Linked DNA regions of Homo sapiens: region 2 is linked to region 1. Evidence: fine-mapped expression QTL. A gene starts in region 1. The other region holds a variant in brackets. All regions are shown on one strand. Distances are from middle to middle.

Region 1 (15,493 bases):
TCAAGGTGCCAGGCCCTGAAACACTCTAGATATGTCCTCAGGCCCTGAAATGTTCACATTATTTCATCAGTTCTGAAGCAAGGAGCAAGAGATGTTGACAGTTATCAAGGAGAAGAGGAAGGGTGAGGGATGTTTGTGTGGGGAAGAGAGCGGTGGGGGGTTGAGCAGGGAGGAAGAGGCTCAGAGCCGCAGCTGATAACTGGGGACTCATACATATTCATGAGGAGGACTGGGATTGGACCAGAGGCCTCAGAGCATGCTGGGACATTTTCCAGGCTGCCTGTTTGCCAGGCAGAGTTCCCAGGGGCCACCGCTGCCTTCCCCGGGCAGCTTCAACCCACAGACACCTGCAGAGACCCTCCTAGTGTCTAGAGGAGGAGAGTTAGGATCACTTTGTTTTAGTCTGATTTCCCAGGAAAAGCCCTCACTCAGTTCTCTCCCCCAACACTGCCTAAGGTGTGAGGCCGGGCACAGTGGCTCACACATATATATAATCCCAGCACTTTGGAAGGCAAAGGTGGGAGGATTGCTTGAGCCCAGGAGTTTAAGACTAGCCTGAGTAACATAGCAAGACCCCTGCCTCTACAAAAAAGTGAAAAAATTAGCTGGGCATTCTGATGTGTGTTTGTAGTCCCAGCTACTCGGGAGACTGAGGGAGGAGGATCGCTTGAGCCCAGGAGTTCAAGGCTGCAGTGAGCTGTGATTGTGTGACTGCACTCCCTCCTGGGTGACAAAGTGAGACCTTGCCTCACAAACAGACCAAATAAATAAATAAAAACATAACCTATGGTTCCATTTACTGGGAGAAAAAATCTTTTCTCCACTGAATTTCACTTGGGCCTTTGTCATAAATCAAGTGACCATATGTATAGAATCTATTTCTGGGCTCTCTGTTCTACACATCTACCTGTTTATCCTTATGCTATTTCTCCACAGTCTTAACGAATGTGGCTTTATTTATTTATTTATTTTGAGAAAGGGTCATAGCCCACTGCAGCCTCAAACTCCTGGCTGGATCAAGCAATCCTCCCGCCTCACACTCCAGAGTAGCTGGGACCACAAGGGTGCACCACCACTTCCAGCTAATTTTTTTAGTTTTGTAGAGATGGGGGTCTTGCTATGTTGCCCAGGCTGGTCTTGAACTCAAGCAATCGTCCTACCTTGGCCTCCCAAAGTACTGGGATTACAGATGTGAGCCATTGCAACTGGCCTTGCCATTTTGGCTATTCTAGGTCATTACTATTTTCATATAAATTTTAGAATTATTTAAAAAATTTCCTGGGTGGTTTTAATTCCTTATCTCATACGCTTTCTCAGGGAACTGGCCACAAAGCAGCACTACCCCCTCAAGGTGACTTCATTCCAAATCAAGGGCCTCATTCTTAGCATCCAGTAGCCCAAATGCAGCTGACAATGTTCTCCCAAGAGTTGAGTAGTTCAGAGGCTGTATAGAGCAAGCCCAGACTCAGATCAGATAATCCAGCCAACTCTGCAGACTCCGGTGTTGACCTGCCCTTGAATAGAGACTAGAGACTGTTCCATGACTAGCCAGAAATGCATATGGAAATTTAATATATGATAATGATGGCATTGGGTGCTTTGTGAAAAAGATGGACTATTCAATAAATAGGGGTTGAGGTCAGGCATGGTGGCTCCCTTGGCTTTGAGAGGCCGAGGTGGGAGGATTGCTTGAAGCCAGGTGTTCAAGAACCTGTCTCTACCAAAAAAAAATATATATATATATAAAATACATTTTATATATATATATATATTTTTTTTTTTTTTGAGATGGAGTCTCACTCTGTCACGCAGGCTGGAGTCAGTGGCGCGATCTCAGCTCACTGCAACCTCCATTTCCAAGGTTCAAGTGATTCTCCTGCCTCTCTTGTAATCTGGGATTACAGGCGCCTGCCACCACGCCCGGCTAATTTTTGTGGTTTTAGTACAGATGGAGTTTCAGCATGTTAGCCAGACTGGTCTTGAACTCCTGACCTCAAGTGATCCGCCCACCCTGGCCTCCCAAATTGTTGGGATTACAGGTGTGACCCACTGCGCCCAGCCTGCGAGCCACCGCACCCGGCAAAAACAAAACAAAACAAAACAAAAATATATACATGTGTATATATATGTATATATATATTCCCTTTATATATTTATACAGCTACTATATATATTTATATGACCACTATAGATAGATAGATACAACTGAAAAAGATAAAATTGAAATCTCACCTTATTTATTTATTCGTTTTGAGACAGAGTATTGCTCTGTTGCCCAGGCTGGAGTGCAGTGGCGAGATCTCAGCTCACTGCAATCTCCGCCTCCTGGGTTCAAGCAATTCTCCTGCCTCAGCCTCCCAAGTAGCTGGGACTACAGGCGCACGCCACCACGCCCAGCTAATTTTTTGTATTTTTAGTAGAGATGGGGTTTCACCAGGTTGCCCAGGCTAGTTGTCATCTCCTGAGCTCAGGCAATCTGCCCACCTCGGCCTCCCAAAGTGCTGGGATTACAGGCATGAGCTACCGCACCTGACATTTATTTATTTATTTATTTATTTATTTATTTAATTTGTTTATTTTGAGAGGGAGTCTTGCTCTGTCGCCCAGGCTGGAGTGCAATGGTGAGATCTCAGCTCACTGCAACTTCCTCCTCCTAGATTCAAGTGATTCTCCTGCCTCAGCCTCCTGAGTAGCTGGGAATACAGGCACGTACCACCTCGCTCGGCTAATTTTTGTATCTTCAGTACAGACTGGGTTTCACCATGTTGGCCAGGCTGGTCTCGAACTCCTGACCTCAAGTGATCTGCCCATCTTGGCCTCCCAAAGTATTGGGATTAGTGTGAACTACCACGCTTGGCCGAAAGACTACCTTATTATTCATATGGAAATAAATACCAAATGGATCAAATATTTACGTGTTAAAAATAAAACCATAGGCTGGGCGCGGTGGCTCACGCCTGTAATCCCAGCACTTTGGGAGGCCGAGGCAGGCGGATCATGAGGTCGGGAGGATCCAGACCATCCTGGCTAACACTGTGAAACCCCGTCCCTACTAAAAATACAAAAAATTAGCCGGGCGTGGTGGCGGGCGCCTGTAGTCTCAACTACTCGAGAACCTGGGAGGCGGAGCTTGCAGTGAGCCGAGATAGCGCCACTGCAGTCCGGCCCCAGGCGAAAGAGCGAGACTCCGTCCCCCCCGCAAAAAAAAAAGAAAAACTAGAAGAATCATTGGATGGAGACACCCACATCACCATATTCAAGTAATGCAGTCCCCCTCCCTGGTATCCTTAGCTATTCAGGCACAAAGCACCCAGGTGTCTCACTGCCCTTTAGGGAAAACATTTCTTCTTCCTCTTCCTCTTCCTCTTCCTCTCCTCCTCCTCCTCCTCCTTCTCTTCTCCTTTTCCTTCTCCTCCTTCTCCTTCTCCTTCTGCTTCTTCTTCTTCTTCTTTTTTTTTGGCGGTAGGGGGACAGAGTCTTGCTCTGTGGCCCAGGCTGGAGTGCAGTGGCGTGATCTCGGCTCACTGCAACCTTTGCCTCCTGGGTTCAAGCGATTCTCCTGCCTCAGCCTCCCAAGTAGCTGGGATTAGAGGTGTGGGCCACCACACCTGGCCAATTTTTGTATTTTTTAGTAGAGATGGGTTTTTGCCATGTTGGCCAGGCTGGTCTCAAACTCCAGACGTCAAGTGATCCACCTGCCTCAGCCTCCCAAAGCGCTGAGATTACAGGTATGAGCCACCACACCCGGCCAGGGAGAATGTTTCTCACTAGAGAAAATGTTACCAAATGAAGACTGTATGCCCCTCCTCTAAGTTGAGAAAATGGAAAACACTACTTAATGAGCACCTGCTGTATACCAAGCACTTTTCCATAATGTCATCGCTAAGAGCTCCAAGTTCTGAATTGTACAGCAAGGATGGGCTTTTGGCTTCCTCAGAGGTCATCTTGTTACCCGAAAAGATTCAGGCCTGCCAAAGGGTGTGCAAGCTGCCTCCCAGCGGCAGGTAAGGACAGGCCCAGAGCCTAGCGAGTCACTGCTTCATTCTTAGGTTCTGAGGACAAGCAGTAGGAATGGGAAAAGAGAACAACCAATTAATCCTAGTTGGATGCTAAGCAGTCTTTCAGAGTGGAGGGAAATATATCCCACTAAGGATGGTGACCTAAGACTCTAGAAGCCTCTGCTAGGTAGATCCATATGATGCCCTGGTCTTGCCAAGTTCAGGGAGCTGGGTGCCAAGTCTATCAGCATTCCTCTGGGGCCAGGCCAACAAAGGTAGCGTAAGAACATGGCTGAGTAACCCGAGCCTTGGTTAGGAGCCTCATATGTGCTCCCCTTAAAGGTGCTGTATTTTTCCATTCCTGGGAAATTCTTAAATCTCAGGTGACTCATCATCTCTTTCACTTGCACCAAAGGTGAACCCCAGCTCTCCTCCCTCCTTTTCCCTGTCCTAGCCCAACCTCAGCAGGGTCACACACCATCTCTGAGTGATCCTAGGGTCAGCTTGCCTGAGGCATCTGCCCTTCATTGTTGCTGCTTAGCATGATTTGGGGGGCATGGAGTTTCCCCTAGCGCAGGGTTGCCCGATTTAGCAAATAAAAATACAGGACACCCAGTTAAATTTGAATTTAAGATAAACAGTGAATGTATGTATGTATGTCTCAAATATTTTGTTGTACTTTGCCTGATAACTTCATCCCGGGAGTCTTTGTTTGTTTGTTTTTGGAGAGTCAGGGTCTCGCTCTGTCACCCAGGCCGGAGTGCAGTAGTGCAATCATAGCTCACTACAGCCTCAAACTCCTGGGCTCAAATGATCCTTATCCAGGGAGTATTTATTTATTTATATATATTTTTGAGACAGAGTCTCCCTCTGTTGCCCAGGCTGGAGTGCAGTGTTGCAATCTCGGCTCTGCAACTTCCACCTCCTGGGCTCAAGTGATTCTTGTGCCTCAGCCCCCTGAGTAGCTGGGATTACAGGTGCGCACCACCCTGCTCAGCTAATTTTTTTTTTTTTTTTTTTTTTTTTGGAGATGGAGTCTCACTCTGTTGCAGGCTGGAGTGCAGTGGCACAATCTCGGCTCACTGCAAGCTCCGTCTCCTGGGTTCACGCCATTCTCCTGCCTCAGCCTCCCGAGTAGCTGGGACTACAAGTGCCCGCCACCACGTCTGGCTAATTTTTTTGTATTTTTAGTAAAGACAGGGTTTCACCGTGTTAGCCAGGATGGTCTCGATCTCCTGACCTCGTGATCCACCCACCTTAGCCTCCCAAAGTGCTGGGATTACAGGCGTGAGCCACTGTGCCCAGCCGCTCAGCTAATTTTTTATTTTTAGTAGAGATGGGGTTTTGCCATGTTGCCCAGGCTGGTCTCGAACTCATGTCCTCAAGTGATCCGCTCGCCTAGACCTCCTAAGTGCTAGGATTACAGGCGTGAGTCACCATTCCCGACCTCTGGAGTATTTAAATGCCTTCCTTTTTTTTTTTTTTTTTTGAGATGGAGTCTTGCTCTGTTGCCCAGGCTAGAGTGCAACAACATGATCTTGGCTCACTGCAACCTCCACCTCCCGGGTTCAAGCCTCAGCCTCGGGAGTAGCTGGGATTACAGGCACGTGCCACCACGCCTGACTAATTTTTTGTATTTTTAGTAGAGATGGGGTTTCGCCACGTTGCCCAGGCTGGTCTCAAACTCCTGACCTCAGGTGATCCACCCGCCTCGGCCTCACAAAGTGCTGAGATTACAGGCACGACCCACTGCACCCGGCCTATTTATTTATTTATGCAAGAGTCTTGCTCTGTTGCCCATGCTGGAGTGCAATGGCACGATCTTGGCTCACTGCAACCTTTGCCTACCGGGTTCAAGCGATTCTCCTGCCTCAGCCTCCTGAGTAGCCGGGGTTACAGGCTCACACTACCACACCCAGCTAATATTTGTATTTTTAGCAGAGAAGGGGTTTTATCATGTTGGCCAGGCTTGTCTTGAACCCCTGACCTCATGTGATCCACCCACTTTGGCCTGCCAAAGTGGTGGGATTACAGGGGTGAGCCACCAAGCCAGCCTTACCACACTATTTAAAATTACCTCCCTCTCTCACTGCCCCCCTTTCCTGCTTTATTTTTCTCAGTAGCATTTATCACCATGTAATAGGCTATCTACTTATTTATTGTCTGTCTCCCTCACTACAAATAAAAACTCCATTAAGTCTCTGTCTATTTTATTTATTGATGTATCCTCTGTGCCTAAAACAAGAGTGTGTCAAATAATAGGCACTCAATAACTCAGTGTTGTACGAATAAATCTATCTGTAAAAAGAGAGGTAATAATAAGATCTACCTCCCAGGGAAATACGATGACAGTTATGAAAATTAAATGAGAGAATAAATGTAAAGACCTTGCATTTAAATACTCTAGGCAGATACCGAGTAAGTATTCATCTAGGATGCTTCTTTGTTGGCTGAGTCCTGGGAGAAGGGTGTGTGGCAGGCCAGGTCTCACTAACACAGGCCTCCATAACAACTGTTTCAGTACTAACTGAGTGGTTAAGTTACATATTAAAAGCTAAAAAAAAAAAGCCAGTGCCCTTATACAAAGGATGGAATGTAACAAAAGCCCACCAAGAGTTTTGCCTAGGCCTTTCCTTGGCCTTAAAGCATGACAAAATAACGAAAGAATTCCTAACAGGACCCATTTAGGATTAAACAAATTTTATTGGGGGTCTGAAGTAACTCCCCAAACCTCCGTGATTTAGTAGGAGGCAAGATAAGGATAATCACCCCAGCACCTATTGCCATTTAGATTAAGTAAATTTACTGAGGCTTCAAAGGAAAGTCTTCAGGACTCAAACCTTAGTTATAGACTAAAGTGAGTTAATCAATTATTATTATTATTATTTTTTTTTTTTTGAGACGGAGCCTCCCTCGCCCAGGCTGGAGTGCAGTGCCGGGATCTCGGCTCACTGCAAGCTCCGCCTTCCGGGTTCACGCCATTCTCCTGCCTCAGCCTCCCTAGTAGCTGGGACTACAGGCGCCTGTCACTGCGCCCAGCTAATTTTTTGTATTTTTAGTAGAGATGGGGTTTCACCGTGGTCTCGATCTCCTGACCTCGTGATCCGCCCGCCTTGGCCTCCCAAAGTGCTGGGATTACAGGCATGAGCCACCGCGCCCGGCGAGTTAATCACTTATGTCTTTAGATGAATGCACATTTACACGTAGACATATAGCTTAGAAGGTATATAAGCTCTGGAAAGCTTTGTAATTTTAAGTTGGTCTGGTGATAATTTCCAGGCCTTCTCCCTGTAACTGGTTGCAGAAATAAAAACTCGCTTCCTCTCCAGTTCATCTGCATCTCCTTACTGAACCAGGAGAAACAGCAGCCTGACGCTCAGTTTGGTCCAGGAACAGGTGGTGGAGGGCTCTCGAACTTTTTTCTTTTTTTTTTTTTTTTTTTGAGATGGAGTCTCGCTCTGTCGCCCAGGCTGGGGTGCAGTGGCGCGATCTCGGCTTACTGCAAGCTCCGCCTCCTGGGTTCACGCCATTCTCCTGCCTCAGCCTCATGAGTAGCTGGGACTACAGGCGCCCGCCACTACGCCCCGCTAACTTTTTTTGTATTTTTAGTAGAGATGGGGTTTCACCGTGTTAGCCAGGATGGTCTCGATCTCCTGACCTTGTGATCCGCCCGCCTCGGCCTCCCAAAGTGCTGGGATTACAGGCTGAGCCACAGCGCCCGGCTCTCTCGAACTTTTTTGGCAGATTTTTGCTGTTGATCAGCCCCGCTTCCCCAACTTTCCCCTGGGTCTCTCTCCCCCGGGAGTTTCTGGTTCCTCTGCGATTAATCACAGCCAAGTCTAGCTGGTTCTTCAGGACGGAGAATAAATAGGATAAACAGGAGCAGCCGAACCCTAACTTTGAGAGCTTTCTCCCCTCCTCTCCTAACTTCCCAGTCAGTGACTCGGAAGACTTTAACAGCAACAGCTGCCTCCTCTTGCCAGCTTGATCCCACCTGCTAAGTGAAGGAACAGCGTTTAAAGAGGTGGCAATCGGCAAGGGTGGATGCTTCCCTTTCCGCGCAGGCGCGTTCAGTCGCAGCACCGCGACTATCGTGATAGACAAGCGAGATCGACGCTGGCCCTTTAATAGCCCTTTCCCGGGGTCCTGCCCCGCGCGTGCGCACTGTGGTTCTGCGCTTGTCATCATGGCGACGCGGGGCCATGTGCAGGACCCTAACGACAGGCGCCTCCGGCCCATTTACGGTGAGTGTCTTGGACCAGCCCGCTCGCCAGCCCGACGCGCCGAGGGCTGCCGAGGCTGGGGCGAAAGCCCAGGAGGGGTGCTGAGGGCCGGCGCGCGGGCCGGGCAGGCGCAGGGGGGCGGGCCGCGCGGGCCACTAGGCCGCAGCCGCGGGCCTCGCGTAGGCGCCGGCCCAACCTTCCTCAGCCTTGGGGTGGTAGTGGCGCGGTCTGGGCAGCAGCTGGTCGGCAGAGCTGGCCTGCTTGGCAGGCCCCGTGGGACGCGTGGTTCTGCAGACACCTGCGCTACCCGCAGGCTGCATCGTTACCGCCGCTCCTAGGGAGACCGGAGATCTCCCCGAAGGTGGAAGCCGGCTCCGGCACGAGGGTGGGACGCCCTGCCTGAGGGAAGATTCCCTACCAGAGATTTTTTTTTATTTACGGGAATTGGGCCTAGAGGGTTGTCTGACTAGGTGGGCTTCGGTGCATAGGAGAAACTGAGGTCCGGAGTGGGGAAGGGGCTGACGCAAGGTCACCCAGATCGAGTCAGGAGCAGGCCCGAGATTCCAGGCTCCCAATCCAGAGCTGTTGGGTGGAGAAGCAGCTACTCTGGTCACACGTGGGAGGCGGGGGGAGGGGGTCTTGGGCCTAAAATAGCGGTGAAGAGATTGTGATAGCTCGTGTCAGAGGGGCATGCAGAGCTACTGGAGGGCTTCTCCTTTCTGCAGCTTCTCTGTGGTTTTCTCTGCAGCTTTCCTTCCCTGTGCTAAGCAGATCCCTCTCCACAACTCTTACCTCAACCCGCAGACTTGAAGACCTTGATGTCATCTCATCCATTTACCCTGGTAGTGAAAAATCACAGATTTTGAGTTTGGGAGAAACCCTTTTCCAATAACCGAAATGTGTAATTGGATTGGTCCTTTTTGCATTTCCTTTCCTCTTAGATGGTTTTATGGTCTTGGTCTATCTCACTTAATGGTGAGGAAGCTTCAAGGTCAGTGGTTTTTACAAAAGTAGACATCGTATTTATAGACCTCATGTGGATGTTACTAAATTGGAGGCTTCTCTCCAAGGTGGGAATCGTTTTGGGAGCGGGGGGCGGTGGTTAACTTTGTTTCTGGCCACAGTTAGTCCGGCTTTTATTTCATAATTTGTGTGATTTTTTTTTTTACTCTCACATCTCATTTGATTTTAGCAACAATCCTATAGCTAAGGTTTATAGATGACTCATTATGACAGTCACTGGCCTTGGCCTTTTATATGGGTTATCTAATATAATCTTCACCCATTCTCAAGAGGTGGCTACTGTTTTTTCCTGCCCCTGAACCCTTTAACAACAACAACAACAAAAAAAAAAACAGATGAGGAAACTGAGGCTTTATTGTTGTTGTGTAATTTGTCTAAGGCCACTCAGTTAGTATTTCTTGGAGCTAGAATTTGAACCCCTGTGGACTGTTTCAGGCTCACCTTTTTTTTCTTTTGAGATGAGTCTCACTCTGTCGTCCAGGTTGGAGTACAGTGGCACAATCTCAGTTCACTGCACCCTCTGCCTCCCAGGTTCAAGCGATTCTCCTGCCTCAGCCTCCTGAGTAGCTGAGATTACAGTTGCACGCCACCAGGCCCAGCGAACTTCCATGTTTTTAGTAGAGACAGGAGTTTACCATGTTAGCCAGGCTGGACTTGAACTCTTGACCTACTCAGCCTCCCAAAGTGCTGGGATTATAGGTGTGAGCCACCATGCCTGGCTCCAGGCTCACCTTTTTTTTTTTTTTTTTTTTTTTTTTGGAGACAGTCTCATTCTGTCATCCAGGCTAGAGTGCAGTTGCACAATCACAGTGCACTGCAACCAGCCTCCGCCTCCTGGGTTCAAGTGATTCTCCTGCCTCAGTCTCCTGAGTAGCTGGGATTACAGGTGCCCGCCACCATGCCGGCTAATTTTTGTATATATTGTAGAGAATGGGTTTCGTCATGTTGCCCAGTCTAGTCTAAAACTCCTGAGCTCAAGCAGTCCTGCCTCAGCCTCCCAGAGTGCTGGGATTACAGGTGTGAGCCACTGTGCCTGGCCCAGGCTCACCTTCTTAACCACTGTGCTAGAAACTACCTCACTTTGAGCTGAAGACACTGATTTGCCTGAGGTCACACAGATGGTAAGTGGCAGAGAAAGGACTCTGATTTCCTATTTCCCCGGGGCTGCATATTCTCATGCCCTTGCCCTCCAGTGTATATTTTCAGAGGGCAGAGATATATATACAAGGTGGGTGATGGAAGGTGAGAACTGAATCCAGGGTTCATAGTTTGTGACTCATTACAGCTTTGTGCAGCAGCTGCCTGCAGACTTTTTTTTTTTTAAACTAAAAACACTCAATACTTTCAAGAATAATTTGATTTTTAAAATTGTTCTTGAGGACCAAAGAGAATTTCTTTGGTCCCATAGTTATTTAGAATTAATAGTGTTTTGACTGTCTAATGGGAAACACCATGTCCATTTCACATCACTAAACATCAGGATATATTAACAAGTTATATTCTCAAAACTGAAGTCAGAATTATGTAGCTTTTGTAACATGTACATGGGAAGAGGATTAGAAGAGGCTTTCTTCAGTAATTCTAAGGCGATTAGTATAAACTGGCAGGACTAGGAAAAGAACGGTACAGACTGTCCGTGAATTCAGCACTTAAGCACATTTGACTTTTGAACTCCACACTTTTGTTGTTTAAATACATTACTACCCCCAAACAACCATGGTTCCTTGAATTCAGACATTCTGACAAATGAACAAACTCATCTATGGTGGTACTTGCCCACCAGCCAAAAATTCAACAACTATCAGCATTAATTAGTGTTTACTGGTGGGCTGACTGCCCTATTAGGTAGGTAAGATTATTGTGATCAAACTGAAGCCTAGAGATTAACTTGCTCAAGGTTGTAGCTACCAAGTTGTAGAGCTGGGATTTGAACATAGACATTCTCACTGAGAGCTCAGCTCTTCACCAAGTTCAGATTCAGTAGCATCACTGTCTTTGTACAACAGTATTTGTACTGCCAAGGTTTCAGGATTTATTTTACAATTGTGTTGGAAACCTTGCTTGGGGCCTCAGCTCTTGCTGGAATTCATTGAGGGTATATGTGGACAGGGCTATGTGGTGATAAATTGTGGTGGGTTGAAATTTTACTGGTGGTGTCTAGGGTTGGAATAGCTTTTCTGTGTGCATAGATTTGAAACATCTTCCCAGTGCATCTCACATTACTAATAAGTTTGGGTATTGCATTTTTCGTTTTTGAAAACCTCCACCCATGACCTTACTGGAACCCATACTTGATTATTTGGTCTCCTTTTGCTAAAATTATTCTCTTTTGCTACGTAGTTCCCAGCAGATTTTGTACTCTTGTGTGACTTGGTAAGCCCCAGTGCCTTCTTTCGTTATTTTTTTGAGACAGGATCTGGCTCTGTCACCCAGGCTGGAGTGTCTTGGCTCACTGTAACCTCCACTTCCCAGGCTCAAGTCATCCATCCACCTCAGCCTCCTGAGTACTGGGACTGCAGGCGGGCACCACCACGCCTGGCTAATTTTTGTATTTTTTGTAGAGACAGCATTTCACCATGTTGTTCAGGCTGGTCTCGAACTCCTGAGCTCAAGCAATCTGCCTGCCTTGGCCTCCCAAAGTGCTGGGGTTACAGGCGTGAGCCACTGCGCCCTGCCCATTATTATTATTATTTTTTTAAGAAGGAGTCTTGCTCTGTCACCCAGGCTGGAATGCAGTGGCGCGATCTTGGCTCACTGCAACCTCTGCCTCCTGGGTTCAAACAGTTCTCTGCCTCAGCCTCCTGAGTAGCTGGGTTACAGGCATGCACCACCATGCCCGGCTAATTTTTGTTTTTGTTTTTGTTTTGTTTTTTTTTTTGAGATGGAGTCTCACTCTGTCCTGCAGGCTGGGGTGCAGTGGCGTGATCTCCGCTCACTGCAAGCTCCACCTTCCGGGTTCACGCCATTCTCCTGCCTCAGCCTCCAGAGCAGCTGGGAATACAGGCGCCCGCCACCACGCCAGGTTAATTTTTTGTATTTTTAGTAGAGACAGGATTTCACCACATTGGCCAGGTTGGTCTTGAACTTCTGATCATGTGGTCCACTTGCCTCAGCCTCCCAAAGTGCTGGGATTACAGGCGTGAGCCACTGCACCTGGCCCCATTATTCTTAATTTTAAAACATTTTCAGTGGTTATGGATTAGGGAAGGGAAGGGATGGAGGGAGATAATAAATATTTGACTCTGTTTTGTTATGCAGCCTCCTCTACCCCATACTTTTATTTATTTATTTTTCTTTCTTTTTTTTCTTTTTTGTTTTTAATTTCACGCTCATATTTTTAGATAATTGGAAGTGGAATTGATGGTCAGGTATGGCACTTAATAAATTTGTATAGAATATGGGAATTGCTAGGTCAGCAAATTGCATAATAGAAATAGAGAAAGTTCAAAGTAGAAAAAATGTGTGCATAGTCTTTAGAATATACACACATACACAGGCATGAGATCCCTTGTTTTAATATGTCGTACTGACCTGCAGTCTTGGATTAGCCTGGATCAGGTGTAAGATATTTTCCAGTGTGTCTCCCGGGTGACAGTCACTTCTTTGCTGAGTTAGGACATTTCTCTTGGGTGCCTGGCTCAGGTAATTATTCCACTATAGTTCATAGTTTAGGAGTTCCTGACCCCAGGATGGTGTGTGATACTGGTCTGTGGCCTGTTAGGAAATGGGCCGCACAGTAGGAGGTGAGCAGCAGGGTGTTGTGGGGGAGAGCATTACTGCCTGAGCCCCGCCTCCTGTCAGATCAGCTCTTAGGAGTAGGAACACAAACCCTGTTGTGAACTATGCATGTGAGGAATCGAGGTTGGCGCTCCTTATGAGACTCTAACTAATGCCTGATATCTGAGGTGGAATAGTTTTATCCCGAAACCATCCCTCCCTGCCATCTGTGGAAAAATTGTCTTTCATGAAATCGGTCCCTAGTGCCAAAAAGGTTGGGGACCACTGCTCTAGTTCATAAATGAAAACTTGCAGGTCCTCAATCAAAAGTGGTATTTATTCTGACCTCCTCTTGGACAGTGTGGTAGCTTTGTGAGTCTGGTCCTATTTTGCCTCAGAAGTGACAGGGTACCTTGGTGAGTGAAGACTATCTTGCGTTTCTGTAGAAAAGTCACTTGGCACAACCTATTTTTTTCCATTCTGAAAATATGACCATTTAAAAAGCCCTGACTTACTAGAACTTCTCTCAATGAATCTAGAACTTCCATCACCATTGGATGGCTGAGACCACCTCTGCCATACCAAAACCTTGCTCATAACCAAAACAGTCCCTGTTGGTCTTTTGCCCTGGACCTGTGACATTCTGGACTATTTTTGTGTTCAGTTTTGGCCAAGTGTTAACAAGCATACAAAGCTGGGCACAGTGGTTTGGCTGGGTGAGGTGGCTCATGCTTGTAATCCCAGCACTTTGGGAGGCCGAGGTGGGTGGGTTGCTTGAGGCCAGGAGTTCGAGACTAGCCTGGCCAAAATGGCAAAACCCCATCTCTACTAAAAATACAAAAATTAGCCAGGTGTGGTGGCAGGCGCCTGTAACCCCAGCTACTCAGGAGGCTGAGGCAGAAGAATCACTTGAACCCGGGAGGCGGAGGCTGCAGTGAGCTGAGATTGTGCTACTGTACTCCAGCCTGGGGGACAGAGCGAGACTTCATCTCAAAAAAATAAAAAATAGGGCTGAGTGCAGTGGCTCACGCCTGTAATCCTAACACTTTGGGAAGCCGAGGCCGGCGGATCATGAGGTCAAGAGTTTGAGACGAGTCTCACCGACATAGTGAAACTCCGTCTCTACTAAAAATATACGAAAAATTAGCCGGGTGTGGTAGTGTGCATCTGTAATCCCAGCTATTCAGAAGGCTGAGGCAAGAGAATCGCGTGAACCCAGGAGGCGGAGGTTGCAGTGAGCCGAGATCGCGCTATTGCACTCCAGCCTGGGCTCCAGTGCGAGACTCCATTGCGGGGGGCGGGGGGGCAGCTAGTGTGATGGTGCATGCTTGAACCCAGGAACTTCAAGCTGCAGTGAGCTGAGATTGTGCCACTGTACTCCAGCCTGGGCAACAGAGCAAGATTCTATGTCAAAACAAATAAACAAAAAACTATTCTGCTGTCTTAGCTGAATAATTCAAACAAACAACAACAACAAAAAACCCTGACCTAGACTTTTAAACTGAAAATGAAGGTTTTAGTGCACAAAAATATTCTTAGATGAATACATAGATTAGAGGGTAGTTGTTGAAACATAGGGCAAGATGAAGAGATTAGTACATTTCTTTTTTTTTTTCTGTTTTTGGAGACAAGGTCTTGCTGTGTTGTCCAGGCTGCAGTGCAGTGATGTGAACATGGCTCACTGCAGCTTCGACCTCCTGAGCTCAAGTGATCCTCCCGCCTCAGCCTCTGGAGTAGCTGGCACTGCAGGCACATGCCACCATGCCTGGCTAGTTTTTTAAATTTTTATTTTATTTTATTTTTTTGAGATGGAGTTTCACTCTTGTCGCCCAGGCTGGAGTGCAATGGTGCGATCTCAGCTTGCTGCAACCTCCGCCTCCTGGGTGGATCACTTGAGTCCAGGAGTTTCAGACCAGCCTGGCCAACGTGGTGAAAACCCATCTCTACTAAAAATACAAAAAAATTAGCTGGGCATGGTGATGCACGCCTGTAATCCTAGCTACTCGGGAGGCTGAGGCAGGAGAATAGCTTGAACCCAGGAGGTGGAGGATGCAGTGAGCCGGGATTGCACCACTGTACTGCAGCCTGGGTGACAAAGCTAGACTCTGTCTCAAAAAAAAAAAAAAAAGTTGAAAAGATTTGGAAAAAATTTAATAGCTGGTAGCCATCACTAATCACTGGTTCTTTGAACTTCCTGTTGTGATCACTTTGTATTATCTTTTTTTTTTGATAGATTTTTTAAGATGCAGTCTCACTCTGTCACCTGGGCTGGAGTGCAATGGCGTGATCTCCACTCGCTGCAACCTCCGCCTCCTGGATTCAAGTGATTCTCCTGCCTCAGCCTCCCAAGTAGCTGGGATTACAAGCACCTGCCACCACACCTGGCTAATTTTTGTATTGTTAGTAGAGATGGGATTTCACCATGTTGGTCAGGCAGGTCTTGAACTCCTGACCTCAAGCAATCCACCTTCCTCGGCCTCCCAAACTGTTGGGATTACAGGCATGAGCCACCGCACCCGGCCTGTATTATCT
Region 2 (15,493 bases), 310 kb before region 1:
TGGATGGCAAGTACTGTCTGTGTTTCCCAGAGGGAAGGGGAATAAGCTGAGTTTCTCTATTGTTCTGTGGCTGCCTAACAAAGTACACCACGGCCTGCTAGGACAATTACAAACATGAGTTGGCTCTGCTTTTCCAGCATCATGTGCCACTCATAACAGTCTCCACATTGACCATGGACACGAGGGGTAAGTCATCTTAGCAGTGGCCTCTGCACTTGAGCAACTCTAACCAAAAACTTGGCCTTACATCAGGACCTAACGTTAATAAAGACATCCCAGTTTCCACTGCAAAGACACAGAACTGTTATTTTTCAGCAAGGCAAGTTTATTTACTCCCGCAGGAGATAAACAAACGTGGCCACCAGGGAGAGCCCAGGACAAAATGTACTTGACCTGCAAGAGATAAACCAAAAGCCTCCAGTCTCAGAACAAGCTCAATTTTCTGCCCCTCTCAGCTCATCGTCGCGTATGGATTTCAGAGCAACAAAAACAGATGTAAAGGAGGTACCACATGCTGAAGGAAGAGTTGGAAAATACAGGCAGCTTTGTTGGTTTCACAAAGGCAGAAAAGGGCAGAGAAGCAACCTCAAAATCTAAATCCAGTACTATCACTGCTACATGATCAAGGGAGGAGTCACTTAATTGCTGAATGCCTTAGTTTTCCTACCTATGATGCTGAGAGATATCAGTACATTGAATATACTTACATTTTAATTACTGGATGCATATAAAAGCCGAACCCAAGAGGAGTTATTTTGATAATTAAGCAAAACAAAATTCAGACTACTAATTGTCATTCAGGTGTCAGCTCACACGATCACCTTCTCTAAACCACCTATCAAAACTAACTGCATTCTCCCATCCTCACATTTCTGTGGGATTTTTTCCCTCCTAGAATTTATTACTACCTGAAATTGCCCTATTTAGTCATGTGTTTGTCTGCTCTCTCTCAGCCATGAAAATAGCAATATTTTCCTATCTTACTGCTTTATCCTGCCTGGCTCATTAACTTCCTGTTGAATGAATTAATACTAGGTTAAAGTAATTTGAAGGCGGGACGCAATAGCTCATGCCTGTAATCCCAGCACTTTGGGAGGCCGAGGCAGGAAGATCGCTTGAGCCCGGGAGTTTGAGACCAGCCTGGCCAACATGGCAAAACCCTGTCTCTATAAAAAAATACAAAAATTAGCCGGGTGTGGTGGTGCACACCTGTAGCCCCAGTAACCGGAAAGCTGAGGAGGGGGGATGGATTGAGCCTAGGAAAACAAGGCTGCAGTGATTGCACCACTGCACTCCAGCCTGGGCAACAAAGTGAGACCCTATCTCAAAAAAACACAATAATAACAATAATAATAAAATTCTAGGGCTGGGCAGGGTGTCTCATGCCTATAATCCCAACACTTCAGGAGGCCAAGGTGAGAGGATCACTTGAACCCAGGAGTTTGAGACTGCCCTGGGCAACACAGTGAGACCCCATCTCTATTCAAACAATTTTAAAATTTTTAAAAATAAAATTCTAGGAAATGCAAACTAATACATAGTGACAGAAAGCAGAATAGTGGCTGCCTAAGAACAAAGGAAGGATTATAAAGAACATAAGGCAAAATTACCAGGGGTGATAGATGTGTTCATTATCTTGACTATGGTGGTGGTTTCCCAAGTGTATATGTATGTCAAAACTGATCAAATTGTACATTTAAATATATGCAATTAATTGCATGTCATTTATACCTCATTAAGGCTGGTTAACAAATAAAACAGGCTTATAATCCAAAAAATAATGAATCATTCAAAATTATGTGTATTATGTTCATAACCCGGCTTTTTGGGTGGTGCATAATACCAGGGCTGGAGGGGAGAAGGAATTACTCCATTTCAAACTGTCATCTTTACCACTTGCTACTTTGACTATGCCCACACTTCTATGCTTCTAAATGAACAAACTGGACAATGTAGGGTCTATTACTACCCAGACCTTTTCCCAACCCCCAGCCCCGTCTGATGTCTCCTAAAGCAGCAGATCCTTACTTGTCTGGAAGAGCAGACACCAGGAACAAAAGGCTCAATGACTATTTGACAGATTAAAGAATAGACAACTGTTTATTTAAAAGCTCCCTAAAGAATTAGAACATTTGAGGCTATACACTGTTCTGTTGAAATGCAGTTATATATTACCCAGATCTGTAAGCACTTGCCAACCGACCTGTCCAAGTCACTCACTTCCTACGAGTTCTCAGTTTTCTTTTTCTCCCCTTTTTAAATTCCAGATCCATGTATGAATAACATGCCAGGTGTGTTTGGAGGAGACATTCCTAATATTTTGAAAAATCTCATTCAGGCTGGGTACGGTGGCTCACGCCTGTAATTCCAGCACTTTGGGAGGCCAAGGCGGGCGGATCACGAGGTCAGGAGTTTGAGACCAGCCTGGCCAACATAGTGAAACCCTGTCTCTACTAAAAATACAAAAATTAGCCGGGCATAGTGGTGCGCCTGTAGTCCTAGTTACTTGGGAGGCTGAGGCAGGAGAATCGCTTGAACCTAGGAGGCGGAGATTGTGGTGAGCCGAGATTGCGCCACTGCACTCCAGCCTGGGCAACAGAGTGAGCCTCCGTCTCCAAAAAAAAAAAGAAAAAAAGAAAAGAAAATCTCATTCAAATAGCCTCAATAGCTTGAATCGTTTTTTAAATGTCTGAGACAGTGACCATAATTGAACAATCATGGAAAAGAATAGACAATGGGTCTTAAGTGTGAGTGGTATATAGAGTGACTATACAAAATAGCAGGATCACTATCTGAAAACAACAGGTCACACTACTGTTTGACAACAAAATTAAGGCTTACAAATGGTTAGCAATAGTTACAAAATAATAGAAGCAACATAGTGATTAAAAGTAGGGATTCTGTCTCCACCACCTACTAGCTGTGAGGTTAGGCAATTTACTTAACCTCTGAAACTCGGTTTACTCATCTTTACAATGGGGATAATAGTAGCCATCTGATAGGGCTGTGGTCAGAACTAAGCAAATGTTAGCTATTAGTAGTAGTATTACCCTGACCTTTCAAAGGATCTCATTAACTCACTAATCCTCCTAAGTTTCAAATCTTGTCATTTACTAGCATGTTGCTTCTGGGCCTCGGTTTCCTCATCCATAAAACGGGTACCAGTAAAGTGACCTGACTGTTAAGGTTGCAGTGAAGGATTAAATAACGAGATGCGGCTCCCTTCCTTTCCATCTCCCAAAGCGAAGATCGCAGAGGAAGGAAATACTTCTAGTGGCTGCAGATACAGTCAGTTTTTCCATTTCTGGCACGTGAGGGGTAGGAGGAAAAGAAGACACAAAGAGGCATATAAAAGGGTCAGGGGTCCTGCGTGAAGTCCCCAAATGCACGAAAGTGGCACAGTGAGCCAGAACGACTAGACCACTGGGGGCCCGGCCCCGCGCAACTCCCCTCTCGTGTCCCAAGGAGCCTCCCCAAGTGAGCAGGGTTATTTCGGAATCACCATGAGGCAATTCTCATGAGGCAATGGGTCAGGAATGCGGCGCTGAGCCTGGCCGCTGGCACCCGTGGTTCCCTCGGCGGCTCTACCTGCCCCGGGCCTGACGGGCATCCCCGGGGCTGCCGCAGCCGGAACTCGGGGAGGCAGGAAATGAATGGGGACCCGAGGGGTGGGGGCGCGGTGGGGCCGGCCCCCGGCCCCTGGAGGGCGAGGGGACGAGGAGGGAACCGGCCCCCAACCCCGACCCGGGGCGGGAGCCCGAAGCCCGGCCGGGGCGCCCCCTTCCGGACGGGGCTAACCGAACGCGGCGGTGGCCGGGCCGAGGCCCGCGCCGGGCCCCTCGGGGCTCCTCACCTCCGCGATGTCATGTTCCTCCCGCCCTCCGGCTCCGCGACGGACCCGCTCCTTGCTCAGGCTCCGCTGGGCTCGGTCACATCGGGCTGGCCCGAGGGAGGCCCGCTCGGGACCGGACGCGGGGCAGAGCCAGCCGGCCGCGCACAGACCCCCCTCCAGGCCTGGGGATCCCGGAGACTGTGCAGCTGCCCCCCGGCCCGGCTCGCTCCTCCTCCGCCCCCGCCCTTCGCCGCCGTCGCCCCCGTGATGTCACCGCTCGCGACGCCCGCCGCCACTTCCTGCTTCCCGTCAGCGGAGGACCGAGCGACGGCCGGGAATGGCAGCGCGGGGGCTCCGCGGAGGCGCCACGCACAGTGTCCAAAGCATCCTTGCTTCCTCCTGGAAACCGCGGCCGCCAGGTGTGAGCTGCGCGCTCCGCGTCTACGCCACCGACCCGTCCGGGCCCGCTGCCACATCGATTTCATTCATTTCGTTCCACAAATCGCCGCTCCACTCATTAGCTGTGGAACCTTGGGGAAATTACCTACTGTCTCCGAGCCTCGGTTTCCTCCATTCTTTTCTTTCTGTAAGATAAAGATAGTAGGCTGGGCGCGGTGGTTCACGCCCGTAATCCCAACACTTTGGGAGGCTGCGGCAAGAGGTTCGCTTAAGCCAAGGAGTTCGAGGCCAGCCTGGGCAAAAAAGCAAGACCTCATCTCTACAAAAAATGCAAAAAACTAACCGGGCGTGGAGGCTGCGGCGGGAAGATAACTTAAGCCCGAGAAGTCGGGGCTGCAGTGAGTCGTGATCACGCCACTGCACTACACCCTGAGCGACAGGGCAAGACACTGCCTAAAAAAATAATAATAGGCTGGGCGCGGTGGCTCACGCCTGTAATCCCAGCACTTTGGGAGGCCGAGGTGGGCGGATCACGAGGTCAAGAGATCGAGACCATCCTGGCCAACATGGTGAAACCCCGTCTCCACTAAAAATTCAAGAATTAGCCTGGCGTGGTGGGGGGCGCCTGTAGTCCCAGCTGCTTGGGAGTCTGAAGCAGGAGAATCGCTTGAACCCGGGAGGCAGAGGTTGCATTGAGCCGAGATCGCGCCACTGCACTCCAGCCTGGCAATAGAGCGAGACTCCGTCTCAAAATAATAATAATAATTACAATAAATACTACTTTGGGGTGGGAGCGGTGGCACACGCCTGAAATCCCAGCACTTCCCTTTGGGAGGCTGAGGCGGGCGAATCGCTTGAGTCCAGGAGTTGGGAACCAGCCCGGGCAAAATAGTGAAATCCCATCTCTACAAAAAATACAAAAATTAGCCGGGCGTGGTGGCGCGCGCCTGTAGTCCCAGCTACTCGGGAGGCTGAGGTGAGAGGATTGCTTGAGCCTGGAAGGTCGAGGCTGCTGAAAGCCGAGATCGCGCCACTGCACTCAGGCCAGGTATGGTGGCTCACGCCTTCATCCCAGAACTTTGGGAGGCTGAGGCAGGAGGATTGCTTGAGCCTAGGAGTTCAAGACCAGCCTGGGCAACATGGTGCGACCATGTCTCTTAAAAAAAAAAAAAAAAAAAAAAAAAAAAGCCGGGCCGGGTGGTACGGAAGTATTACTTTGGACACTCTGTGAAGCTCGAGCAAGAGAGCAAGGCCAGAAACAGAGAAGCCAGTCAAAATACGGAATACTATAGTATTCTGGTCTGGGAATAATGGTAGCTCAGACCAGATTGAGAAGAGTAGAGCTTTTACTTGATTGATGCGCATATGACTCATTGAAGGCTACAGATCTAGCTGAGCGTGGTGGCTCACGCCTGTAATCCCAGCACTTTGGGAGGCCAAGGAGAGCAGATCACTTGAGGTCAGGAGTTCAAGACCAGCCTGGCCAACATGGTGAGACCCCGTCTCAACTAAAAATACAAAGATTAGTCGGGCTTGGTGGCGCACACCTGTAGTCCCAGCTACTCCGGAGGCTGAGGTGGGAGAATTGCTTGAACCGGACAGGCAGAGGTTGCAGTGAGCCCAGACTGCACCACTGCGCTCCAGCCTGGGTGACAGGGTGAGACTCTTTCTCAAAAATAAATAAATAAAGGCTACAGATCTAGTGAATGGCAGAGCCATAAGTTTAACCCATATCTGTATAGCTCCAAAATCCTCATTTTTTTAATGCTTGCCCATTTCATTCATATACAAGTGAGTCTCATACTGTGTGCTAACTGCTTCAGCATCATGTGCTCCTTACAAAGATCACCTTTAATATATGCCAATTTAATTCACATAAGAGCCATTTAACAAGCAGTTGTCCCTCTCCCTAAATCCTGGCCAGCTAGATGACAAGCTACATTTTAACTGATCTCAGGCCTGCAGGCCTAAACTTCCTAATCCAATCTCCACATAGTAGCCAGAGTAATCTAAACTACAAAACTAGGCGGGTCACTCGGGGCGCGGTAGCTCATGCCTGTAATCCCAGCACTTTGGGAGGCCAAGGCAGGTGGATCACCTGAGGTCAGGAGTTTGAGGCCAGTCTGGCCAACATGGTGAACCCTCGTCTCTACTAAAAATACAATTAACTGTGGCCAAGTGCGGTGGCTTACACCTGTAATCCCAGCACTTTGGGAGGCCAAGGTGGGTGGATCACCTGAGGTCAGGAGTTTGAGACCAGCCTGGCCAACATGGTCAAACACAATCTCTACTAAAAATACAAAATTTAGGGCTGGGCGCGGTGGCTCACGCCTGTAATCCCAGCACTTTGGGAGGCTGAGGCGGGCGGATCACGAGGTCAGGAGATCGAGACCATCCTGGCTAACACAGTGAAACCCCATCTCTACTAAAAATACAAAAGATTAGCTGGGCGTGGTGGTGGGCACCTGTAGTCCCAGCTGCTCGGGAGGCTGAGGCAGGAGAATGGCGTGAACCCAGGAGGTGGAGCTTGCAGTGAGCCAAGATCACACCACTGCACTCCAGCCTGGGCAACAGAGCGAGACTCTGTCTCAAAAAAAAAAAAAAAAAAAAAAAATACAAAATTTAGCTGGGTGCAGTGGCAGGCACCTGTAGTCCCAGCTACTCAGGAGGCTGAGGCAAGAGAATTGCTTGAACCCAGGAAGTGGTGCTTGCAGTGAGCCAAGATTGCGCCACTGCACTCCCACCTGGGCGTCGGAGCGAGACTCCATCTCAAAAAAAAAAAAAAAAAAAACTGCAAAACTAGTCACTCCCTACATTGAATTCACCAATGGCTTCTCCTTGATTTTAGAATGAAGTCCAAAAAAAAAAAAAAAAGGTTTATCCCCCTGGATGTGGTGGCTCACCTCTGTAATCCCAGTGTTTTGGGACTCCTAGGTGGGAGGATTTCTTGAGCCCAAAGAGTTCAAGAACAGCCTGGGCAACAGAGTAAGACCCCTGTCCCTACAAAAAAAAAAAAGTTTTTTGTTTTGTTTGAGTTGGAGTCTCATTCTGTTACCCAGGCTGGAGTGCAGTGGCGCAATCCCGGCTCACTGCAAACTCCACCTCCCAGATTCAAGCAATTCTCCTGCCTGAGCCTCCCAAGTAGCTGGGATTACAGGCACGCACAACCATGCCCAGCTAATTTTTTTTGTATCTTTAGTAGAGACAGGGTTTCGCCATGTTGGCCAGGCTGGTCTCCAACTCCTGACCTCAAGTGATCCACCCACCTCAGCCTCCCAAAGTGCTGGGATTACAGGCGTGAGCCACCATGCCCGGCCCAAAAAAAAGTTTAAAAAAATTTTTTTAGACCCAAGGTCTTGCTATGTTGCCCAGGCTGGCCTTGAACTCCTGGCCTCAAGCAGTCCTCCCACTTTGACCTCCCAAGGCCTTGGATTTACAGGCGTGAGCCAATGCACCAGAGTTTTTTT[A/TA]ACTCTGGTCCCCAATCACTTCACCACCCCGTCTCCCCACTACTCGCTTCATTCTCTATGACCCAGCCATGCTGAATGACTTTCAGCTCCCCTCAATATGCCATATTCTTTCCCAGCGTAGAGCCTTTTAACAATCTGCTTTCTTTCCCCAGAGGGTTCTTCCTGACTGTCCTCCACATCAACTCTATGCCTCTGATCTCAGGCTAGGAGCCACTTCCTCTGGAATACAAGCCTCACCCGATTCTCTAGTGCAGGTCAGATGGTCACCAAGACACCTATCCTTAGAACCTAACATGCTACACTATAAATCTAAGAGCCGTATCATATAGGAAGCATCCAATTAAGTTTTGTGGGTTTTTTTTGTTTTGTTTTTTTTTTTAGACAGTCTCACTCTGTCTCCCAGGCTGGAGTGCAGTGGCGTGATCTCGACTCACTGCAAGCACCGCCTCCTGGGTTCACGCCATTCTCTTGCCTCAGCCTCCCAAGTAGCTGGGACTACAGGTACCTGCCACCACGCCCGGCTAATTTTTTGTATTTTTTTAGTAGAGACAGGGTTTCACCGCATTAGCCAGGATGGTCTTGATCTCCTGACCTCGTGATCCACCCGACTCGGCCTCCCAAAGTGCTGGAATTACAGGCGTGAGCCACGGCGCCTGGCTGCCAATTAAGTTCTTGATCTAGCTGCCTGGGTGTCTATAAGCAAGTCATTTGACTCCTCTGTGTCTGTTTCCTTCTCTGCAAAGTAGGAATCAAAATCCTACCATAGGATAGGTTTGTGAAATACTCAGAACAGTGTCTGGCAAAGTCAGCACTTGATAAAAGCTGGCTATCATTTGTCTCTTTTCCAAAGTAAACTATTAGCTCTTTGAGTGCAGGAACTACTACCTTCCTAGTGTTTCCTATATTCTGCACACTCTGCAGCTAGAATGAATAATCTTTTAAAAATACAAATCTAATCACGTCACTCCCCTCCCCTGTTGTATGAAGGAGGTTCAAACCCTCTAGCATTAAGTTGAACTCCTTCCCTTAGCACATCAGTCCGTTCTAGATATGGCCTGTGCCAACACCCTCACATAATCTAGCAGTTTCTAAAGGCTTCTAGCTGTTTCTTGCATCCCTGTCTTCCAAAATTTAGTTCCTACTGCCTGGAATACTCTTCAAACCCTTCTCCACCTGGAAAACAGTCATGCAAGGTTAAACTCCAACTTAAGCAGCTCCTCCAGAAAACATTCTTTCACTTTTTGAGAATAAAAGAGAGACTCCTTTCCTATGCTCCTGGGGCTGCCTCTTCATGCTTCTATCAGCACCTAACACATTTCAACATCATTGTGGGTTCTGTCATTGTTGTTCTGTGTCTTTCTTTAGATTATGATCTCCTTTTAAGACAAAGTCATTGTCTTCCTTTTTTTTTTTTTTTAATACAGACAGGGTTTTGCCATGTTACCCAGATTGGTCTAAAACCCCTGGGCTCAAACAATCATCCTGCCTCCGCCTCCCAAAGTGCTAGGATTACAGGCATGAGCTACCATGTCCGGCCGGTCTTCCCATCTTTATATGCCTGGAGTAGTGCCTGGCATATTCATTTATATGGCCGGGCATGGTAGCTAACAGGAGGATCTCTTGAGACAGGAGTTTGAGACCAGACTGGCAGCCTGGGCAACATAGCAAAAACAAAACAAAACAAAACAAAACAAAAAAACCTCAATCTGAATTATTTTATTATTATTATTTATTTACTTTTTAAGATGGAGTCTTCACTCTGTCGCCCAGGCTGGAGTGCAGTGGCACAATCTCGGCTCACTGCAAACTCTGCCTTCCGGGTTCACACCATTCTCCTGCCTCAGCCTCCCGAGTAGCTGGGACTACAGGCACCCGCCACCATGCCCGGCTAATTTTTTTGTATTTTTTAGTAGAGACGGGGTTTCGCCGTGTTAGCCAGGATGGTCTCGATCTCCTGACTTCGTGATCCACCTGCCTTGGCTTCCCAAAGTGCTGGGATTACAGGCGTGAGCCACCGCACCCGGCCAACTCCATCTTAATTTTAAAAAGATATATTCATTTAGAGATTAATTCAGATAATAGCCATTACTTTATTTGAATTTCTTTCTCAATTACAAAAGCAATACAAGTTCCTTGCAACAAACTAAATAACAAACAGTAATTTTCTCTGTTCCTTGATGCATACGTACTCCATATCCCAATCCCCAGCAGTGTTAATGGTTTGGTGTATGTCTTTCCACACTTTATACATATACAAACACACAAACTCATCCCATACACAGGCTCACACACATACATAACACATATAAAGATATTTTTCTATTTATTTATTTATTTATTTATTTATTTATTTATTTGAGACAGAGTCTCACTGTGTGGCCCAGGCTGGAGTGCAGTGGCACAATCTCGGCTCACTGCAACCTCTGCCTCCCGGGTTCAAGTGATTCTCGTGCCTCAGCCTCCCAAGTAGCTGGAATTACAGGCATGCACCACCATGCCTGGCTAATTTTTGTATTTTTAGCAGAGATGGGGTTTCACCATGTTGGCCAGGCTTTAAAAGATTTACTGCCTAACAAACAAACAAAAAATACAGCTGAGGCAACATTGTGAGACCCTGTCTCTACAAAAAATGTAAAAAAATTAGCCAGGTATGGTGGTGTGCACTGTACTCCCAGCTACTCAGGGGGCTGAGGTGGGAGGATTGCTTGAACCCAGGAGGTCAAGGCTGCAGTGAGCCATGATCTCACCTTGCATTCCAGCCTGGGCGACAGAGCGAGACTCTGTCTCCAAAAAAAAAAAAAAATTAGGCTGGGCGAGGTGGCTCACGCCTGTAATCCCAGCACTTTGGGAGGCCGAGGTGAGCAGATCACCTGAGGTCAGGAGTTCAAAACCAGCCTGGCCAACATGGTGAAATCCTGTCTCCAATAAAAACACAAAAAATTGGCCGGGCAAGGTGGCTCAGGCCTGTAATCCCAGCACTTTGGGAGGTCGAGGCGGGCAGATCACGAGGTCAGGAGATCGAGACCATCCTGGCTAACACAGTGAAACCCCACCTCTACTAAAAATACAAAAAATTAGTCAGGCATGGTGGCGGGCGCCTGTAGTCCCAGCTACTCGGGAGGCTGAGGCAGGAGAATGGCGTGAACCCGGGAGGCGAAGGTTGCAGTGAGCCGAGATCATGCCACCGCGCTCCAGCCTGGGCAAAAGAGCAAGACTCTGTTTCAAAAAAAAAAATTAGCCAGGTGTGGTAGCGGGCACCTGTAATCCCAGCTACTCAAGAGGCTGAGGCAGGAGAATGGCTTGAACCCAGGAGGCAGAGGTTGCAGTGAGCCAAGATCACGGCACTGCACTCCAGCCTGGGCGACAGAGCAAGACTCCATCTCAGAAAAAAAAAAAAAAGATTAAGTGTCTGCAAAAATGTCTGCTTTGTGATTAAAGTGCTGCACAAATTTCAGAGAATTTTATATATGGCAAAACTAAACTTAATAAAAACATTTACTTTATAACTAACATGGTATTTTGCCCAACTAATGAATTGTAAATTTTGCAATACCGCAACAAAACACAAGAGGGGGTTCATCTACGTTTTTATTTTAATGACAGGTCATTCAACACATATTTTGGGGCGTTCACTAGGTGAAATTATCTGAGATTGCCAGCAATTTTGAGGGGCCCACGTAAGCAACTGTGCATCTCATTCATTCATTGTGGTACATTTTCTGCAGTTGAAGTTTCTAAGAGGTGCTTTGCTGAGGAAGCTAAACAAATAAAGCTGCTGACATTCCCATTCTCAAAAAAAAGGGCAGTGTTCATCTGATCATTGTATTTGTATCCTCAGTGAATCAGAACCAGAAAAAGGCTAAATGATTCCCAGAGACACAGCCATGAAGCAGGTGGTTTCGATCTGAAAAAATCAAGGTGAAAAGCTCTAGCAACCAGAAAGAAACGAATGGAGGAAAATGGAAAACGCAAGCTAGAAGGTATTACAAATGTGTACATGTTGGCTTAAGGGCTTTGAAGCAGTAAAGAACTATCACATATACTGTGTTGTGTATTTTGTAAAAGATAATAAATATTCTTATTTTTAATTCTAACATGAGCAAAACTCTCATGCATCTTCATTAATCATCTCTTTAATCTTGCAGCCTAATGGTTAAGAGTGCAATCTTTGGAATCAGATCTATGCTGTGAGCAAGTTACTTAATGTCCTTGAGACTCAGTTTCCTCATAATAGTATCATTCACAGGTTGTTGGGAGAATTAAATGAAATAAAGCAAGGCACATTGTATGCAATATTGCCTATTATCTCCCATGCATAAACTTTAGCAGAATACTTGACAACAACTAGGATGTTGATGATCAGATGATTGTAGTGGTGATGGTGACAATAACAAGAGCTAACAGTTCGCCAGGTGCGGTGGCTCACGCCTGTAATCCTAGCACTTTGGGAGGCTGAGGCGGGTGGATTACTTGAGGTCAGGAGTTCAAAACCAGCTTGGCCATCATGGTGAAACTCTGTCTCTACTAAAAATACAAAAAATTAGCTGGGCATGGTGGTGTGCGCCTGTAATCCCTGCTACTTGGGAGGCTGAGGCAGGAGAATCACTTGAACCCAGGAGGCAGAGGTTGCCGTGAGCCAAGATCGTGCCACCACACTCCAGCCTGGGTGACAGAGCGAGACTCCATCTCAAAAAAAAAAAAAAAAAAAAAAAAAAAAAAAAAAAAAGAGCTAACACTTATGTAGCATTTACCATCCATCAAATAATCAAATATGCTTCTCAGTACTGTTGTATATATTATTTAATGTTCCCAACATCCTTATGAAGTAAGTTACTATTGTTATCCTCACTTTAATTTTTTTTTACTTTTTTTAAGACAGAGTCTCATTCTGTAGGCCAGGCCGGAGGACGGGAATGAGAAAGGCCATGTACAAGAGGAAGTAGTCAGCCGCTAAATCCAAGGTAAGGGAAGAGGGGACCACTGACCTAATCTCAAGTGACAAGATTAGAGTTCACTGCACTGCAGCCCAGACCTCCAAGACTCAAGTGATCCTCCCGCCTTAGCCTCCCGAATAGCTGGGACTACAGGCACTAACAACCACACTCGGCTAATTTTTTTTCTTTTTTTCTTTTTTTTGTTGTTGTTATTGTTTTGAGACTGAGTCTGGCTCTATTTCCCAGGCTGGAGTGCGGTGGCACGCAGTGGCACGATCTTTGGAGTGCTGGGATTACAGGCGTGAGCCACCGTGTCCGGCCCTTTTTTTTTTTTTTTTCTTTTTTGAGAATCTTGCTCTGTTGCCTAGAGCGCAGTGTCGCGATCTTGGCTCACTGCAATCTCCACCTCCAGATTCAAGTGATTCTCCTGCCTCCGCGCCTCGACTGGCTGTCATTACAGACACGCACCACCCACGCCCGGCTACCTTTTGTATTTTTAGTAGAGACGGGATTTCACCATGTTGGCCAGGCTGGTCTCGAACTGCCAACCTCAGAGGATCCTCCTGCCTCGGCCTCCCAAAGGGCTGGGATTACAGGCGTGAGCCACCGCACCCGGCCTAGGATTTACTACTTTTTTCTTAACGGGGAAATACTACATTCCCCATGATGCCCCAGATCCGGAAGGAAGTGAGACTCGCACTTCCCATGATTGCTTATAGACCGGAAGCCGGGACCTTAATTCTCTTTCCCATCTTGCAAGGTAAGAATCGCGGGCCTGTCTGCAAGACTTGAGTTCAGGACTCCCAATCCTTCGCCATCCGAACCTGGAGGGCATCCAGTCGACACCTACAGGGGTCGGACATGTCCAAGGCTAACTGAGAGGCCTTCCAGACGCTTCATTTTTGTTGTTTGGGTTTGCGGCAGGGCACAAAGAGGGTGAGGTAGAATGCCGTAGTGGCTCCCTCCGGTTCTTCGCCACTCTCTTGGGCTGGGGGAACGAGGCCCTTTCGGGGACCCGTAGCAGACTGGTGGGTGTTAGAGGAAGCGGGGAGACGGCGCGTGCACTGTGTTCCTGGTCCTGGGTTCCAGAGGATGACACTGAGCCTGTCGCAGCCACGTTGGGGTTCCGCACTGAAGCCAAAAGGTTTCGCGTCTCCCAGCGTCCCCGACCGGAAGTCGCCTCTTGGTCTTTGCGATCTTTTTCTCTGGCTCAATTTGGGCTGATTCCGTTTGTGTCCGCAATTCCTAAATCGAGTTTCTTGAAAAGAGACACTGGTCTTAAGGGTTAAGACGAAAGGTACTGAAAGTAAGGGATTTCAAGTTCTGGTCTTGGTGCTTCTAACCTGTGGACACATTCTGCATCTAAGTTTTCTAATTCGCAAAACAGTAATAAAAAATAATGGTTGTACGGACTTCTGACCGCTCAGTATTTGGCAAAAAACCTAATAGGTGTGAGGTAGTTTCAAATTCTCAAAAAAAAAGTTTATAGTGTATTGGGGAGACAAACCCCAAATGAGTCATAGTGAAGGTTGGAGTAGAATGGGTAGAGTTTGAGAGGAAGGCCTGTATCTTACCGGGGGAGGGATTGTAGTCTGGGGAGCCCAGCCCATTCATGTACAGGTTCATTATTGTCTTGTTAGAGAGATGACTGGTGAAATGCCTTTTTTTATCTACAAAAAAATATTTTTAGATGGCGGGTGAAAAAGTTGAGAAGCCAGATACTAAAGAGAAGAAACCCGAAGCCAAGAAGGTTGATGCTGGTGGCAAGGTGAAAAAGGGTAACCTCAAAGCTAAAAAGCCCAAGAAGGGGAAGCCCCATTGCAGCCGCAACCCTGTCCTTGTCAGAGGAATTGGCAGGTATTCCCGATCTGCCATGTATTCCAGAAAGGCCATGTACAAGAGGAAGTACTCAGCCGCTAAATCCAAGGTAAGGGAAGAGGACCACGGACCATTATGTCTTAACCTTAATTGGCATTCTCTTACTGTTGATGCATTTGTGTCCTTGTAGGTTGAAAAGAAAAAGAAGGAGAAGGTTCTCGCAACTGTTACAAAACCAGTTGGTGGTGACAAGAACGGCGGTACCCGGGTGGTTAAACTTCGCAAAATGGTAAGATGTGGGGACTGTAAATTGGATTTTCTGTTTATGCTTGAATACTGTGAAGATGTTTTTGAATACTTAGATACTGTAAGTTTCTGCATACCGGAGAATTTCTGATAGAAAATAAAGGGCTCTGGGTTTGTAACTTGGCTTCAACATTTACTGTTAATCTTAAGTAATTTAAATTACTCGTCTGTGCTTTGTTCCTTTGCATATAATATGGGAATGAGGCTGAGTGTGGTGGCTAATGCCTGTAATCCCAGCACTTTGGGAGGCTGAGGCGAGCAGATCACCTGAGGTCAGGAGTTCAAGACCAGCCTGGCCAACATGGTGAAACCACATCTCTAGTAAAAATATACAAATTAGCTGGTTGCGTGCCTGTAGTCCCAGCTGCTCTGGAGGCTGAGGCAGAAGAATCGCTTGAACCCGGGAGGCAGAGATTGCACTACTGCACTCCAGCCTGGGCGACAGAGGGAGGCTTCATCTCAAAAAAAGATAAGATGGGAATGAGGGTTTACCTCAAAGAGTTTTTATGGAGATTAAATGAAATAATACATAGCCTGTTCTATAGAACATTTCCCACTAGAGCAGTGTTTCTTGGCCCCCTTTACCACACACAAGACCCAATGTAATCTCAGGATTTGCTCTGTAATTTTCATTATGGGAACATTCCCAAATAAGTTAACACCATACAGTTTCACAGTTGAAGATTACTGCATGAGAGGGAAGATGACAGTTGTTTTGTGAACTCGTTTTCCCATTA

The links.
Region 2: its variant is fine-mapped to the expression of NAA25 in breast (GTEx, PIP above 0.99). The same link has a PIP of 0.9 or more in thyroid.

What each region holds. Positions count from the first base shown.
Region 1 is chr12:112,101,465-112,116,957 of GRCh38, reverse strand. NAA25 (N-alpha-acetyltransferase 25, NatB auxiliary subunit) reads left to right here and starts at 8,175. Exons shown (of 24, transcript NM_024953.4): 1 at 8,175-8,242. The coding sequence starts at 8,185. RefSeq lists silencers at 8,226-8,305, 8,326-8,405 and enhancers at 10,006-10,507, 13,826-14,326.
Region 2 is chr12:112,407,486-112,422,978 of GRCh38, reverse strand. It overlaps PTPN11 (protein tyrosine phosphatase non-receptor type 11), which reads right to left and starts at 4,032. Exons shown (of 16, transcript NM_002834.5): 1 at 3,854-4,032. The coding sequence starts at 3,867. It overlaps RPL6 (ribosomal protein L6), which reads left to right and starts at 13,374. Exons shown (of 7, transcript NM_000970.6): 1 at 13,374-13,392; 2 at 14,323-14,559; 3 at 14,641-14,739. The coding sequence starts at 14,323. RefSeq lists silencers at 3,525-4,094, 3,806-4,157 and enhancers at 3,531-4,178, 4,145-4,404, 4,179-4,826, 4,827-5,475, 13,564-13,743. The variant A/TA (reference allele first, on the strand shown) is at 7,699.